2 separate regions of the Homo sapiens genome follow, and region 2 is linked to region 1. Evidence: fine-mapped expression QTL. Tissue or cell type: whole blood. Region 1 holds a variant in brackets; the other region holds the start of a gene. All regions are shown on one strand. Distances are from middle to middle.

What was found. PIP is the estimated chance that this variant, and not a neighbour inherited with it, causes the effect.
Region 2: it holds the start of MILR1, and the variant in region 1 is fine-mapped to the expression of MILR1 in whole blood (INTERVAL, PIP above 0.99).

Annotation. Positions count from the first base shown.
Region 1 is chr17:64,483,337-64,491,336 of GRCh38, forward strand. It overlaps POLG2 (DNA polymerase gamma 2, accessory subunit), which reads right to left. Exons shown (of 8, transcript NM_007215.4): 4 at 7,460-7,633; 5 at 2,392-2,532. It also overlaps a transcript of MILR1 not described here. Among named protein-coding and RNA genes, the nearest start is that of POLG2, 9.7 kb to the right of the region's middle. RefSeq lists a silencer at 6,646-6,820. The variant C/CA (reference allele first, on the strand shown) is at 4,731.
Region 2 is chr17:64,445,830-64,454,103 of GRCh38, forward strand. It overlaps MILR1 (mast cell immunoglobulin like receptor 1), which reads left to right and starts at 3,286. Exons shown (of 10, transcript NM_001085423.2): 1 at 3,286-3,394; 2 at 3,485-3,526; 3 at 6,768-7,037. The coding sequence starts at 3,340. RefSeq lists a silencer at 3,149-3,198.

The DNA.
Region 1 (8,000 bases):
AAACTTCTCTCTACCAAAAAAATACAAAAAAATTAGCTAGGTATGGCGCATACCTGTAGTCCCAGCTACTCAGGCGGCTGAGGTGGGAAGAATGCTTGACCCGGGAGGTCAAGGCTGCAGTGAGCCAAGATCGTGCCACTGCACTCTAGTCTGGGCGACAGAGTGAGATCCTGTCTCAAAAAAAAAAAAAAACAAATTAACTTGAGACCCTCCCATTTTCTGACAACTCCCTCAGTCAAAATGCTTCTTTCAGCATCACTTTGGACCCTACCAGCCTGGGCCACGTGGCTTACCATTTCAACTTTCTCTCTCTTGTCAAAACCTACTGTTCTTCTCTTTTTATATATATTTTTTTGAATGAAAAAAATTTTTAAATGAAATTTGCTTTTTTTTTTTTTTTAAAGGGTCTGGCTCTGTTGCCCAGGCTAGAATGCTCCACTCACTGCCTCACTGCAACCCCCACCTCTGGGCTCAAGCCATCCTCCCACTTCAGCCTCCTAAGTAGCAGGGACTACAGGTGCACGCCACCACGCCCAGCTAGTTTTAGTATTTTTTTGTAGAGATGAAGTTTTGCCATGTTGCCCAGACAGACTGGTCTCGAACTCCTGACCTGAATGATCCACCCACCTTGGCTTCCCAAAGTGCTGGGATTATAGGCGTGAGCCATTCAGCCCAGCCTTCTCTTCTCATTCATTAGTCCATCCAACAAACATTTTAATGCCTCTGATACCAGGAACAGTTCCAGGTGCTAGGGGTAAAAATCTCCGTCTCTCGTGGCAGGGAGAAACAGACAATAAAAATAAGTAAATAATATATGTGAAGGTGGTAGGTGCTAAAAAAGGAAGAAGATGGAACATGCTGGCAAGAGGCAGGCTGGGGGAGGTTTTCAGCAACTTTAAGGTGGTCAGAAAAGGTTCTCTCCCTATGGTGACACTTGAGCAAACACTCGAAAGAAGGTGGGGGGACGAGACATGGATGATGAAGAAAGAGCACTCTAGGCAATGGGGAATACAAATGACAGGGCTCTGAGCTGGCAGCATCTCCAGCATGTTCTAGAAATAGCAAGGTCAGTGCTGCTGGAGCAGACTGAGTGAGGTGGAGAACAGCAGATCAAAAAGAGGGCTTCGGTTTTTCCTGAGTGAGATGAGAAGCTTTCCTGGAGTGTTCTGAGCAAAGGAGCAACACAACATGCACCTTTTAACAGGGCCACTCTATCAGGGGAGGAGGAGTGGCGGTGGCTTATAGCAGGGTGGTAGCAGTAGACAGGCTAGGAAGTGGTCAGACTCAGGATACGTTTTGAAGTTAGAGTCAAACAGGATTTGCTGATGGTTTGGAAGTGGAGTGTAAGAAAAAGAAAGGATTCCTTTTTTTGTTAGCTACAAACCATTTATAAACCCCATTCCCCAGAATAATTCTATAATCAGACTTCTCTATGGTTATAGCAGGCTAAATGAACACTGTATAATAAATCACTTAACTAAGAAGAGTGGTTTCCTACAAACTCATGGTTCCCAATCCCAGCTGAACACTCAACATTATTTGTTAAAACTTTTGATTTGGGGCAGCTTCCTTTTATGTTCAAAGGGTATATGACTATTCCCCACTCGTGCCATTTAAACCCCCACTCTTCCACATTTAAACTAATAGTGCCTCCTAACTCCCTGAGAAAATAGAGGGCATCAGTAAAATGTCCTTCAAAGACCAAAAAGCCCAGTAGCCTTTTTATATCTCACTATCCTTTTTCTTCTTCCCTGCTGTTTCAAATATCTCCTTTTCAAGATACATTCTTCTACTTGGGCTCTTGATCCCATCCTGACCCCTCCGGTTTCCTTCATCTTGCCCCATTAATCATTTCTTTTCTCTCCTATAACTTCAACTTCTCCTCTCGATTTTCTTTGACCCATAAACATGCTCCAAGTGCATGTTCATGCACTAAAATCAGCCTTTCCAGGCCCACATCTAGCTCCTCTGATCCAGGAACCAGCCATGTGGCACAAGACCAGAAGCCAGACACCTGGGGCAGAGAGGTCAATAGCACAGGTCTCCCTGATCCGGGTCTTTCTTCCTCCTATGTACCAATGCTTCAGCTTCTGATACAAATGGAAGCCCACAGTGGAAAGGTTCAGGGGCTAGGAGTCATAGAGATAGCTGTCTGTTCACAATTAAACAGAAATGCCTTTGGGATTACTTATTAGGGATGCCTTGTTCTATTCTGTGAGAACCTGATTCTTATTCCTGTGGCCAGATTCTAAAAAAACTGAAAAATACTTAGACTACATGCACTAAATTTATTATTTAGAGTTTATGTTAGAAACCGAGCACACTAACATTAAGAACAAACAAACCCATATTTTTAGTTTCCCAAGTCTATCTCTGAAATATCAACAGCACCTTTCTATGAAGATTTTTCTTTCTTGTAAAGGAGTTCTCTGTCAGCTGGAAAGAATCATAGAGGTAGGCCAGCATGCCTCGGTCTAGGTCCCCATTTACAGAGAGAACACAAGGAACCACATTTTTTCGTCCATCTCGGCCCTTCACAGAAAAACAGAAGAAAAATAATCATTTCACAGAACTTTTTTTGTTTGTTTGTTTTTGAGACGGAGTCTCACTCTGTCACCTGGCCAGGCTGGAGTGCAGTGGCATGATCTCAGCTCCCTGCAACCTCTGCCTCCCAGGTTCAAGTGATTCTCCTGCCTCAGCCTCCTGAGTACATATTTTAGACTTACACAATCAGAATACAAAAGTAAAGTTTCATTTTACAAAGCACCCACTCTGTACCAGGCCTGTGGTAGGCACTGGGCCCACGAAGACGATAAAGATGCATTCTCTGCTCTCACTGAGCTCAGTGTTTCATCAGCGAGGCCCAAATGTGAATTTTAAAACTATGGTGCTTGGTTGGGCTCTATCCCAGAGATTCTGAACGAACTCAACTGGAGAGGGACTTAGGCATCAATTTTTTCAATAGCCCTACAGACTATTTCTTTAATGCTTCCGAGCTCAGAGTTAGTATTCAGAAAGGTAACACTTTTTTTTTTTTTAATACAGACAGAGTCTCGCTCTGTCACCCAGGCTGGAGTGCAATGGCATGATCTCACCTCATTGCCAACCTCTGCCACCCGGGTTCAAGTGATTCTCTTGCCTCAGTCTCCTGAGTAGCTAGGACTACAGGCACACACCACCATGTCTGGCTAATTTTTTTCTATTTTTAGTAGGGACGGGGTTTCACCATGTTGGCCAGGTTGTTCTCAAACTCCTCACCTCAGGTGATCAGCCCACCTCAGCCTCCCAAAGTGCTGGGATTACAGGCGTGAGCCACTGCGCCCTACCTCGAAAGGTAACACTTTTAAGTAAAAATTGTTTGCTGATTATTCAAAAGAGGCCTTAGGGAAAAAAATGGTGTGCTTTAGGGAAAGGGGTTTGGAGTATAATTTTCTGAAACGTAAAGTTATTTTCATAAAAAAGAAATCTTTCAAAAACTTACTTTTTGCATTAAAGCCATAATTATGAAAACAAACTACACATAGTACATGATATGAATTAAGTATTGATAAACAGACTTACTTCTTCTCTAAACTGAAGAGGAATCATTTCAAACTTCTTAAAAATTTCAATCCTAGAAATTTCTTAAGTTTTGGATAAAAACAGTTCCACTTTCATCTTTCTTTTTTTGTAAATCATTGTTCACCTGGATATTCATGTAATTTTTAAAAATACTTAAATAACCACCTTTAGCTAGAGTCACAGAACAAAAAAAAAAGAGAGAAAACCCCACAAATTTAAATCCTCAGCTTCTGTTAATTATTCATGATCAACCACAGTCTTCATTAATACATATATGTACTGACATTTTAAACCTATTTGAATTGCATATGATACTTTAAAGATTCACAAGAATTTGCCCTCAAAGGCAGTAAACTTTCTGATACCTGGGACTCTATTCTACCAGTTGTATTTCACACAGTTATCGTCGAACTGATAGTTAATAAGATAAACTGGGCTGGGAGCAGTGGCTCATGCCTGTAATCCCAGCACATCGGGAGGCCATGGTGGACGAATCACTTGAGTTCAGGAGTTCGAGACCAGCCTGGCCAACATGGTAAAACCCCACCTCTACTAAAAAGACAAAAATTAGCTGGGCATGGTGGTGCATGCTTGTAATCCCAGCTACTCAGCAGGCTGAGGCATGAGAATCACTTGAACCCAGGAGGTGGAGGCTGCAGTGAGCAGACATTGTGCCACTATACTCCAGCCTGGGTGACAGAGTGAGACACCATCTCAAAAAAAAAAAAAAAAAAAAAAAGACAAACTCAAGTACTGAAAGATTCTGTGGTGCGCTTTGAATCAAACAAAATCTAAATCTGAATCTTTATGAAGAATGCTTTAGGCTGGGCACAGTGACTCACTCCTGTAATCCTAGCACTTTGGGAGGCCAGGGCAGGAGGATCACTTGAGCCCAGGAGTTTGAGACTAGCCTGGGCAACATGGCAAGATCCCATCCCTATTTAAAACAAACAAAAAAGATTGTTTATTGTTTTCTAATTTTTTGAAAATTGGATATCCAACAATGTCAGGATATCTGGTGGCAACTCTTCCAACAATATCTGATTTCTCACACTATCCAGAATAAATTCTTTTCTATCCTAACTGTTCTTCAGCCTTTATTGGTCTGCTTCACTGTTCTCTAAAAAATATATTTGGACATTAACCATAAAATCAACTAAAAACAGATA[C/CA]AAAATGGCCTAAGAGGCTGGGTGCAGTGGTTTACGCCTATAATCCCAGCACTTTGGGAGGCTAAGGCAGGAGGATTGCTTGAGCCCAGGAGTTCAAGACCAGCCTGAGCAACACAGCGAGACCCCATCTCTATTAAATAATTTTAAAAAAAGAAAGAAATGGCCTCAGAAACATTTCAAGAAAGCATACTAAATGACAGAAATTCTACTTAATATTTTATAACATGTTCAACTAATGATAAATAATTTTGTGAACTCTGGAAACAGAAAAGGAACAATGTCATGGAAGAGAAAAATTTCTGCAATAGGAAAACTCTTCATTAGTGAAAATGATACCAATAAAAGAACAAAATAATCTGGGCATGGTAGTTCACACCTGTAATCTTAGCACTCAGAAAGGCAGAGGCAGGAGAACAGCTTGAGCCCAGGAATTCAAGACCAGACTGGGCAACATAGCGAGACCCCATTCTTCATACAAAAGAAAAAAAAGAACAAAATAAGACACTAATAGCCACAATACAAAAATCATCTTTAAATCCCTAGTCACAAGGTTGAGCTGTTCGTTAACTATGATAATAACCAATAAGTTTCATTTGAGAGCTGAGTACCCCAAAATGAAGTGTGATGGTGGTGGAGTTAAAGGAAAATGTTCACCAGTTAATAAGCCTTCTAGTTTTTCATTAGTTATTCATATTTAAAAATTCCAGCCTGGTCAATATGGTGAAACCCTGTCTCTACTAAAAATACAAAAATTAACCGGGCGTGGTGGCGCACACCTATAGTCCTAGCTACTCAGGAGGCTGAGGCAGAAGAACTGCTTGAACCTGGGAATCGCGACACTGCACTCCAGCCTGGGCAACAGAGTGAGATGCTGTCTCAAAAAATAAAAAAATAAAAATTAATCTACTTTCTACTCATTATATATAAACTCCTATGTTTTTGCTATATATTTTTTCTTTTTCTTTTTTTTTTTTTTTGAGACATGGTCTCATCCTGTTGCACAGGCTGGAGTGCAGCAGCACAGTCTTGGCTCACTGATGATCCTGGAACAATATATTGCTACAAAAGGTAAGGAAGTGCTCGTCAAGACAATGATGGAAATATGTCAAAAGGACACTGGCCAAGTCTAGGACAATTTGACCATCAAAATAAATAATGACAGTAACACACTGTAACCCCCTGAGAAAGTAATCTGTGAAATACCAATTTAAAAAAAAAATGGAGGAGAAGGAAAAGCTCTACAGTATATTGCTGACCAGTAAATCTAGAAGGAATGATGGAATTTGTTTTTTTTTAAAAAAAAAAAAAAGGGAAGGGGAAAAAAACACCATTGGCAAACCTCATCGTAGTAACTGATTTGAGCAAGAATCATCAAGGGATGCTGCAACCAGTAAGGCAAAATTTGGTGACATGGCCAAACATGGTGACTCATTCTTATAATCCAAGCATTTTGGGAGGCTGAGGCAGGGGGATTGTTTCATCCCAGGAGTTCGAGACCAGCCCGGGCAACAAAGCTAGACCCCGTCTCTACAAATATTAAACCATCAGTCGGGCATGGTGATACATGCTTGTAGTCCTAGCTACTTGGGAGGCTGAGGCAGGATTGCTTGAGCTCAAGAGTTTGAGGTTGCAGTGAGCTATCACCATACCACTGTGTTTCAGCCTGAGTGATAGAGTGAGATCCTGTCTCAAATAAAGAAAAAAAAAAATCACCATTTGGCAAACCTCACATTAGTAACTGATCTGGGCAAGAATCATCAATGGATGCTGCAACCAGTAAGGCAAAATTTGGTGACAAAGAAATTGTCTGCATCATCTTAAAGTATCTGCCCACAACACTTATTAATTACTAGTTAATTTTTTTGTTTTTTTTTTTTGAGACAGAGTCTCGTTCTGTCGCCAGGCTGCAGTGCAGTGGCACGATCTTGGCTCATCGCAACCTCCACCTCCCGGGTTCAAGCGATTCTCCTGCCTCAGCCTCCCAAGTAGCTGAGACTATAAGGGCAAGCCACCACATCCAGCTAATTTTTGTATTTTTAGTAGAGATGGGGTTTCACCACATTGGCCAGGATGGTCTCAATCTCTTGACCTCATGATCCTCCCACTTCGGCCTCACAAAGTGCTGGGATTACAGGCGTGAGCCACTGCGCCTGGCCGTTAATTAATAAATACAAACTATTTATTAGCTTTACACTGGAGAAATCTAGTAGAAACCATCTTAACTAAATGATAAAAGTTAACATCACCAGTAACACTCCTCATATGACACACTGAGAAGAGAGCTTCTCAGTACTACCACTTCTGTAGTACTCCCGACAAAAATACATAAATCACGTGGAAACAGCAGACAGATCCCAGCCAAGGCATATTCTACAGATTAACTAGACTGTACTCTTCAAAAATGTCAAGGTCACGCAAGACAAGAGGAATTGTTCATTTGAAGGAGTGTAAAGGCATATGACAACTACATGAAAGACAAGATCTTGGACCTATAAATGCCATTATTGAGATAATCAGTTCAATTTGTAGGGCTCTGTGGCAATAGTGGATTACTGTTAATTTCCTGATTTTGATGACTGGATTGTAGTTATGTAGGTGAGTGTCTCTGCATCTGAAAAATACACAATGAAGTGTTAAGACACCACGTTTGCACCTTATTCTCAAATGGTTCGGAAATGATTATAGAGAATCTGGGTAAAAAATACATAGGAGCTCCAGGTAAAACATACATGTAATTTAGACACATTGCCAGGATACATGTGTAAAAGTTCGTGATCTCCTAGGTTCCACAGGGTTTCTATTAACTCCTTTCCCCAGGGAAAATTGTAGTAAAGTTTGTTTCCTTTCCGGCCTTCTTCATCCTGACAGTCACTGCTGCTGAAGTTAGATGGACTCATGGCAAACTGGAAAAGAAAATTTAAGTTTGTCTTAACATATTTAAATAAACACTAATTTAACTCCCATAATTATCTGTAAGAATTTAAATTGTCCGATACTTTTTATTCAGCAAATGTGCGAAACTAGTCAAGTCCCGAATACAAATTTTAAAGTTTATTCTAATTTACATTTTTTTTTGAGATGTGTCTCATTCTGTTGCCCAGGTTAGAGTGCAGTGGCTAGTCACAGGTACAATCATAGCTCACTGCTGCCTCCTACTGCTGGCCTCAAGCAATCCTCCTGCCTCAGGATTCAGAGTAGCTGGGACCACAGGTTGCTGAAATTTAATTTTTAAAAAGTGAAAATACTGGCCAGGCACAGTGGCTCACGCCT
Region 2 (8,274 bases), 37 kb before region 1:
GATAGCATTAGGAGAAATACCTAATGTAAATGATGAGTTTATGGGTGCAGCAAACCAACATGGCACATGTATACCTATGTATCAAACCTGCACATTGTGCACATGTACCCTAGAACTTAAAGTATAATAATAAAAAAAATAAAAATAACATTCTACTCTCCAGATATAGCTATTGTTAACATTTTGAGAAAATATCCTTCCAGATAGTTTTTCTCTTTCTTTCTTTCTTCCTTTCCTTTCTTTTCCTTTTTTAATTTAGAGACAAAGTCTCATTATGAGTCTCCCAAAGTGCTGAGAATACAGGCATGAGCCACTGTGCCCGGCCTCCAGATAGTTTTTCTATGTATACAAATTATGCACTTTCTTATTTAGAAAAATGATTTATGTTATTACAACTGTTAATAATACCTTTTCTCTTTTCTTAAGTATATTGTGATTCTCTTACCACATCATGAAATGTTCTTCTACATCACCATTAAAAATTCTTTTTTTTTTTTTTTTGAGACAGTGTCTTTCAAAAGTGCAGTTCTGAATCAAGGCAGCCTTGAAGTCTTGTTATTATGGCAAGCCCTCCAGTGCCAGGAGAACTGAGGTAGGAGTAAACTCAGATCAGCCTTTGAAATAGAATGTGTGAGGCCAGGTGCAGTGGCTCATGCCTGTAGTCTCAGCACTTTGGGAGACTGAGGTGGGTAGATCACTTGAGATCAGGAATTTGAGACCAGCCTGGTCAACATGGCGAAACCTCATCTCTAGTAAAAATTAAAAAAATTAGCTGGGCGTGGTGGCAAGTGCCTGTAATCCCAGCTACTTGGGAACCTGGGAACTGTGGAGGTTGCAGTGGCCCGAGATGGCGCCACTGCAGCTATTACTCCAGTTTGAAAATACTAGAAGTTGCCAATATATATTTTTTCCATTGCCAGACTTGTCTGCAATTTGTACTGGATCTGATAGAGAAACCATTTCCATGGGTCTATATGAAAATGTGGAGCCGGGGGTAGTGGCTCACGCCTGTAATCCCACAACTTCGGGAGGCCGAGGCAGGCAGATCACCTGAGGTCAGGAGTTCGAGACCAGCCTGGCCAATGGGGTGAAATCCCGTCTCTACTAAAAATACACAATTTAGCCAGGTGTGGTGGCACGTACCTGTAATCCCAGTTACTTGGGAGGGTGAGGCAGGAGAATCCCTTGAACCCAGGAGGTGGAGGTTTCAGTGAGCCGAGATAGCGCCACTGCACTCCAGCCTGGGCAACAGAGCGAGACTCCATCTCAAAAAAAAAAAAAAAAAAAGAGAGAGAAAGAAAATGTGGGTGCGGGGAATGATTCTATGGTTGTCTGTTCTTTTCCAGCTGGCCAGCAGTGGTAGCCAAAAAGTGACAGGATGCTGATGAAAAACATTGCAGACGTGAAGAAAAGAAAAAGTTGATGGAATTTTGCACATGTATCTGACAGTTCACCCATCCAAACTTTTATAAAGTGCTGTAAAGTTGTTGTAGTAAGGGTGGGGCATGGTGGTTCATGCTTGTAATCCTAGCACTTTTGGAGGCCACACGCAGGAGAATCGCTTGAGCCCAGGAGTTCAAAACCAGCCTGGGCAATATAGTGAGACTTCATCTCTATAAAAAAGTTAAAAACCTAGTAGTGTATGGTGGTTTGTGCCTGTGGTCCCAGCTACTAGAGAGGCTGAGGTGGAAAGATAGTTTGATTCTGGTAAGTGGAGATTGCAGTGAGCCAAGATGGTGCCACTGTGCTCTAGCTTGGGAGACAGAGCAAGATTCAGTATCAAACCTCCTAGCTAGAGGATGCTAGCTAGGTGACGCTGAGTCAATAAGGAAGGATTTGGTTACATCTTGGGACCTAAGGTACAGAGATGAATGTCCCAGCTCAAGGCTGCCCCAGCCATTCAACTCCTTGCTTCCTCTCTTGGTGGACCTGTCAATTCTTGCAAGTGTCAACCAGCTGTCTTGCCCACCTAGCCCTATAGTCATACCTTTCTATCCTTTTGGTGATCTCCACTCCATCAAGAAGTGGCTCTGCACATTCTATTTCAACTGACTTTTTTTTTTTTTTTTTGAGACAGAGTTTTGCTCTATCACCCAGGCTGGAGTGCAGTGGTGCAATCTTGGCTCACTGCAACCTCCACCTCCCGGGTTCAAACGATTCTTCTGCCTCAGCCCCTCAAGTAGCTGGAATTATAGGCACGCATCACCACACCCAGTTAAGTTTTTTGTATTTTTACTAGTGATGGGATTTCGCTGTGTTGGCCAGGCTGGTGTCAAACTCCTGACCTCGGGTGATCCGCCTGCCTCAGCCTTCCGAAGTGCTAGGATTACAGGCATGAGCCACCGCACCCAGCCTGCACGTTCTATTTCAAAGGCTGATCTAAGGTAACTCCTACTTCAGATCTCCTGGCACTGGAGGGCTTGCCGTAATATCAAGTCCCCAAGGCTCCCTTGATTCAGAAATCACTGAGGCAGCAGCACCTTGTACAGATATTTCTCAGCCTTCACTGTGCGTAAGAATTGCTCAGGGCCCTTGTTTAAAAAAAAAAAAATCAGCGTCCTGGACTTGAAACCCAGTAAGTCTGGAGTGGGGTCTAGGAATCAACGTTTAACAAAAGCAGGCATTTTTGGCCAGGCACAGTAGCTCACACCTGTAATCCCAGCACTTTGGGAGGCTGAGGCGGGAGGATCACTTGAGCTCAGGAGTTTAACACCAGCCTGGGCAACTAGACCCCTGTCTTTACAAATAAAAATAATTAGCCAGTCCTGATGGTGCACACCTGTGGTCCCAGCTACTCAGGAGCCTGAGGTGGGACGAGCACTTGAGCCCAGGAGTTTGAGGCTGCAATGAGCTATGATCACAGCACTCCACTCCAACCTGGGTGACAGAGTGAGGCCAGTCTCAAAAAAAAAAAGCAGGCATTTTTGATACAATATTTGTATGTATCTGCTTAAGACAGTCGGTTTGCTTCCAAAGACTAAATCAAACTTCCACCAAACTCCTTTTGGCATAGACTGAGTCCAGAGCAAGGAGATCAGATGGGTTTACATAGACAATGTAACAGTCAGATTTACCTCTTCTCTTTCCCAGCCAGCATGGGACGATGTGGGGGTGTGGGGGGGTGGGGGGGGCGGGGGAGTGGCAATCTACCAAATATCTCTCTTCTTACAGGAACTCACAGAGGAAGACAGATTGGTCGAACAAACCAGTATTATGCAAACCTCATCCAAACCCTCTGATTTCCTTAACTTGGCTAAGAAAAAGAGGAAGTTCTCCGAGTTACTCACCACTGTGGTTCTACTATGCCTTCTGACCCCGTCTTGGACTTCAACTGGGAGAATGTGGAGCCATTTGAACAGGCTCCTCTTCTGGAGCATATTTTCTTCTGTCACTTGTAAGCCCCCCTTATCATTCTGAGGCTCGAACCTCCAAGCCAACGTGTCATGTGGAAAGTGAGCTTTATCGTGTTCCTTTTCTGTTTCAGGTAGAAAAGCTGTATTGGATTGTGAGGCAATGAAAACAAATGGTAAGTTTCATTTACTTCTTTCTTATTGAAACCATTTTCACTGAAGTGGTGAGACAGTCTGATTGCAACATAAGCGTCCATTCAAAAGTGTTTCTGAGCTTTTATGAACAACCAAAGAACAGTCTTTTCAATTATCTATCATTTAAAATAAAATGATTTTAGGGAGGGGATTGCAGCATTTTTTTCTGAGACTCAGTGAGAAAAATAATGAAATTTGTTTTCACAATGAAAGTTTTCTAACTTTCCTTGTTATTGTTGTTTTATGGTTGTTGTGTTTTAACTAGAAAGCCAACACACAGGCTGGGTGTGGTGCCTCCGGCCTGTAATCGCAGCACTTTGGAAGGCTAATGGGGTAGGATTGCTTGAGCTCAGGAGTTTGAGACCAGCCTGAACAACATAGTGATACCTCGTTTCTTAAAAAAATAAAACAAAATAAAAAAACCCACAGAATTATTGTGAAATAATTCAAGCAACACTAGAAATATACATTGGGAAGTGGTCTAACCTCTGGTTCTACTAGTTACTAGCCAGCAGCCTGAGCTCATGACATACCCAGTTTGACCTTAATTTCTTTCTTTCTTTCTTTCTTTCTTTTTTTTTTTGAGATGGAGTCTCAGTCTGTCGCCCAGGCTGGAGTCAGTGGTGCAATCTCGGCTCACTGCAACCTCTGCCTCCCAGGTTCAAGTGATTCTCCTGCCTCAGCCTCCCGAGTAGCTGGGACTACAGGCGTGTGCCACCAAGCCTGGCTAATGTTTTGTATTTTTTGTAGAGACGGGGTTTCACATCGTTAGCCAGGATGGTCTCGATCTCCTGACCTCGTGATCCGCCCACCTTGGCCTCCCAAAGTGCTGGGATTACAGGCGTGAGACACTGTAATTTATTTCATCTGTGAAGTGGGCTAATAAAAGCACCTACCTGGTAGGCTAGTGTGCAGATCAAATGAGACAATCCCTGCTCCTCGTCACAGTGCCAGGCATATGGTAAACCATCCGTAAGTGATAGCCAAGGTGGTGGTTGTTACTGTATAAAATGTAAAAGTTCTGTTACAATCCTCCTCCAATTCTTCTCCCCTTCCTATCCAGAAGCAGCCGTTATCAACAGTCACTTTATATTCGTTATCTTTTTTTGTTTGTTTGTTTTTGAGACAGAGTTTCACTCTTGTTGCCCAGGCTGGAGTACAGTGGCACAATCTCGGCTCACTGCAACCTCCGCCTCCTGGGTTCAAGGGATCCTCCTGCCTCAGCCTCCCGAGTAGCTGGGATTACAGGCACGTGCCACCATGCCTGGGTAATTTTTGTATTGTTTTTTGGTAGAGACGGGGTGTCATCATGTTGGCCAGGCTGTTCTTGAACTCTTGACCTCGTGATCCTCCTGCCTCTGCCTCCCAAAGTGCTGGGGTTACAGGCATGAGCTACCACACCAGCCTTAGCTCCTCTTTTTCAACAGCTGCATGGTATTTTAAGACTCAGCCATGATTCGTTTAACCATCCTTATTTATTGCCCTGCTTTTTGGGGGCAATATAAACAATGCTACAATAAACATCCTTGTACACAACGTCCTTTGTGGATGCATGAGAGCTTGAAAGCATCTCTGTAGAATGAAATTCTAGAATTGAAATTGCAAGGTCATAGGGCATACACATTTAAATTGTTACAGACCCTGCTAAGTTGCCCTCCCAACAAGGCTGATCGTATCCTATCAGTCACCAACGGTGGGTGAGTTTCCCCACCCACTCCCCAGTGGTGGATATAATCACTTTTACTTTTAAATTTTATTTAGGGTTTTTTTTTTTCTTTCTTTCTTTGAGACAGAGTCTCTGCTCTGTCGCCCAGGCTGGAGTGCAGTGGTGCGATCTTAGCTTTCCGCAGCCTCGACCTTCCAAGCTCAATTGATCCTCCCACCTCAGCCTCCTGAGTAGTGCCATACAGGTACGCACCATCATGCCCAGCTAATTTTTGTATTTTTAGTAGAGACAGGGTTTCACCATTTGCCCAGGCTGGTCTCGAACTCCTGGACTCAAGAGATCTGCCTGCCTCAGCCTCCCAAATTGCTGGGATTACAGGCATGAGCCACCATGCCTGGCCAATCATTTTTAAACTTTGTACCAATCTGATGAGTGAAAAATGATATCTCAGTGTTGTTTTAATTTGCAGTTGCCTCATTACTTGTGAAGTTGAGCATCTTTTTCATGTTTACTGGCCACAAAAGCTCTAGCATTCCTAGATAAAAAAAACTTAGGGATGGCTATTTGGTTGGAAAGGTAGTTTAGGTCTTGTCTTAAAGTTGAGTTTATATGGCGGGGCACAGTGACTCACACCTGTAATCCCGGCACTTTGGGAGGCTGAAGCAGGCAGTCACTTGAGGTCAGGAGTTCAAGACGAGCCTGGACAACATGGTGAAACCCTGTCTCTACCAAAACTACAAAAATTAGCTGGGCATGGTGGTGTGTGCCTATAGTTCAGCTACTCAGGAGGCTGAGGCAGGAGGATCAGTTGAGCCTGGAAGGTGGAGGCTGTGGTGAGTCAAGATGGTGCCACTGCGCTCCAGCCTGGGCAACAGAGTGAGACTCTGTCTCAAAAAAAAAAAAAAGTTGAGCTTATATAAGACTGAGAAAATGTTAATTGTCCAGATCAAAGAGTGGGAGGAGAGTTTACTGCATTTTTAAAAGCATTTTTGAAGAGTCTAAATCTGTCTTCCACCCAAGCCATCCATTGGTCCCAGCTATGTTTTTTTTTTTTTTTGTTCTGTTTTGTTTTTTAAAAATTAGAGACGAGGTCTCACTTGTTGCCCAGGCTGTTCTCGAACTCCTGACCTCAAGTGACCCTCCCACCACAGCCTCCCAAAGTGCTAGGATTATAGGCGTCAACCACCACACCCAACTTCAAGAACTTTTTATTTATTATTATTTTTATTTTTTGAGGTAGTCTCACTCTGTCACCCAGCCTGGAGTGCAGTGGCATGATCTTGGCTCACTGCAACCTCCGCCTCCCTAGTTCAAGCAATTCTCCTGCCTCAGCCTCCTGAGTAGCTGGGATTACAGGTGCCCACCACCATGCCAGCTAATTTTTGTATTTTTAGTAGAGACAGGGTTTTGCCATGTTGCCCAGACTGGTATCAAACTCATGGCCTCAAGTGATCCACCTGCCTCGGCCGCCCAAAGTGCTGGGATTACAGGCGTGAACCACCTTGCCCGGCCAGGATCTTAAGAAGGACTTTTTCTTGTGTCATTTTGTTTTTCAGAATTCCCTTCTCCATGTTTGGACTCAAAGACTAAGGTGGTTATGAAGGGTCAAAATGTATCTATGTTTTGTTCCCATAAGAACAAATCACTGCAGATCACCTATTCATTGTTTCGACGTAAGACACACCTGGGAACCCAGGATGGAAAAGGTGAACCTGCGATTTTTAACCTAAGCATCACAGAAGCCCATGAATCAGGCCCCTACAAATGCAAAGCCCAAGTTACCAGCTGTTCAAAATACAGTCGTGACTTCAGCTTCACGATTGTCGGTAAGTAGAGTGCCTGTTCCTTGGAGCCCCTATAATTTATAGGGTGCTTTCTGGTTCTATGAGGGGCTCTCCATGATCCTTGTGAACACTTAAGAACCTGGAAAGTATGTTACTGCGAGCTTTATTCTTTTTTTATTTTTTATTTATTTTTAGACCTGGTCAACAGGAAGTATCTTTTAATTTTTTAATTTTTGAGATCTCTATTCTTTTTTTTTTTTTTGAAACAGAGTCTCACTCAGTTGCCCAGGCTGGAGTACAGTGGTGAAATCATGGTCCACTGCAAACTCCACCTCCTGGGTTCAAGGCATTCTCCTGCCTCAGCCTCCCAAGTAGCTGGGATTACAGGCACCCATCACCACGCCTGGCTAATTTTTGTATTTTTACTTGAGACGAGGTTTCACCATGTTGGTCAGGCTGGTCTCGAACTCCTGACCTCAGGTGATCCGCCTGCCTCAGCCTCCCAAAATGCTGGGATTACAGATGTAAGCCACCATGCCCAGTGAGTTCTCTATTCTTAATCATTCCGTTTCACCTTCTCTTTCAAAGACTTTCGACCATGTCAGATAATAGTCTTATATCTTTAGGCAAAAGTCTTATATCTCAACAATAATTGTGGAGGTCTTTTCTAGAAACTTTATTCTGTGATTCCCATTGTGTGGGCAAAAATCGCTTTTTTTTTTTTTTTTTTTTTCTGAAGCCTTGGGCCCCTTGGAGAGGGTCTTCAAAGCCTCACGCCTTTCCCACCGCTTCCTTAGTGTCAGGGGCCCCATCCGCTAGCACTCTTCCTGCCTAGCCACATCTCACTACTTCTGTGTTTTTCTGTCCCATTTTCCTACCCCAAGCCTGTTACTGCCTAGCATTAAGGGCCTCATCCGTGAAGGTGACCTTGATAATGGACTCCTGTGGGAGGAGAGAAGGCTTCTAGGTAACACATGTATGTTATACCTGGAGTCTTCAAAGCGTAGGGACCCTGACTTCCTGATAACTCTTGAGTGGTCCTCTATGTCTATGCTATCCAGTACGGTACTGTTTAAACTTATTTGTTTATTTTGTTTTATTTTATTTCTTTTTTTCTTTTTTTGAGATGGAGTCTCGCCCTGTCACCCAGGCTGGAGTGCAGTGGTGCGATCTCAGCTCACTTCAACCTCCGCCTTTCGAGTTCAAGCAATTCTCCCACCTCAGCCTCCCGAGTAGCTAGGATTACAGGCATGCACCACCATGCCCAGCTAATTTTTGT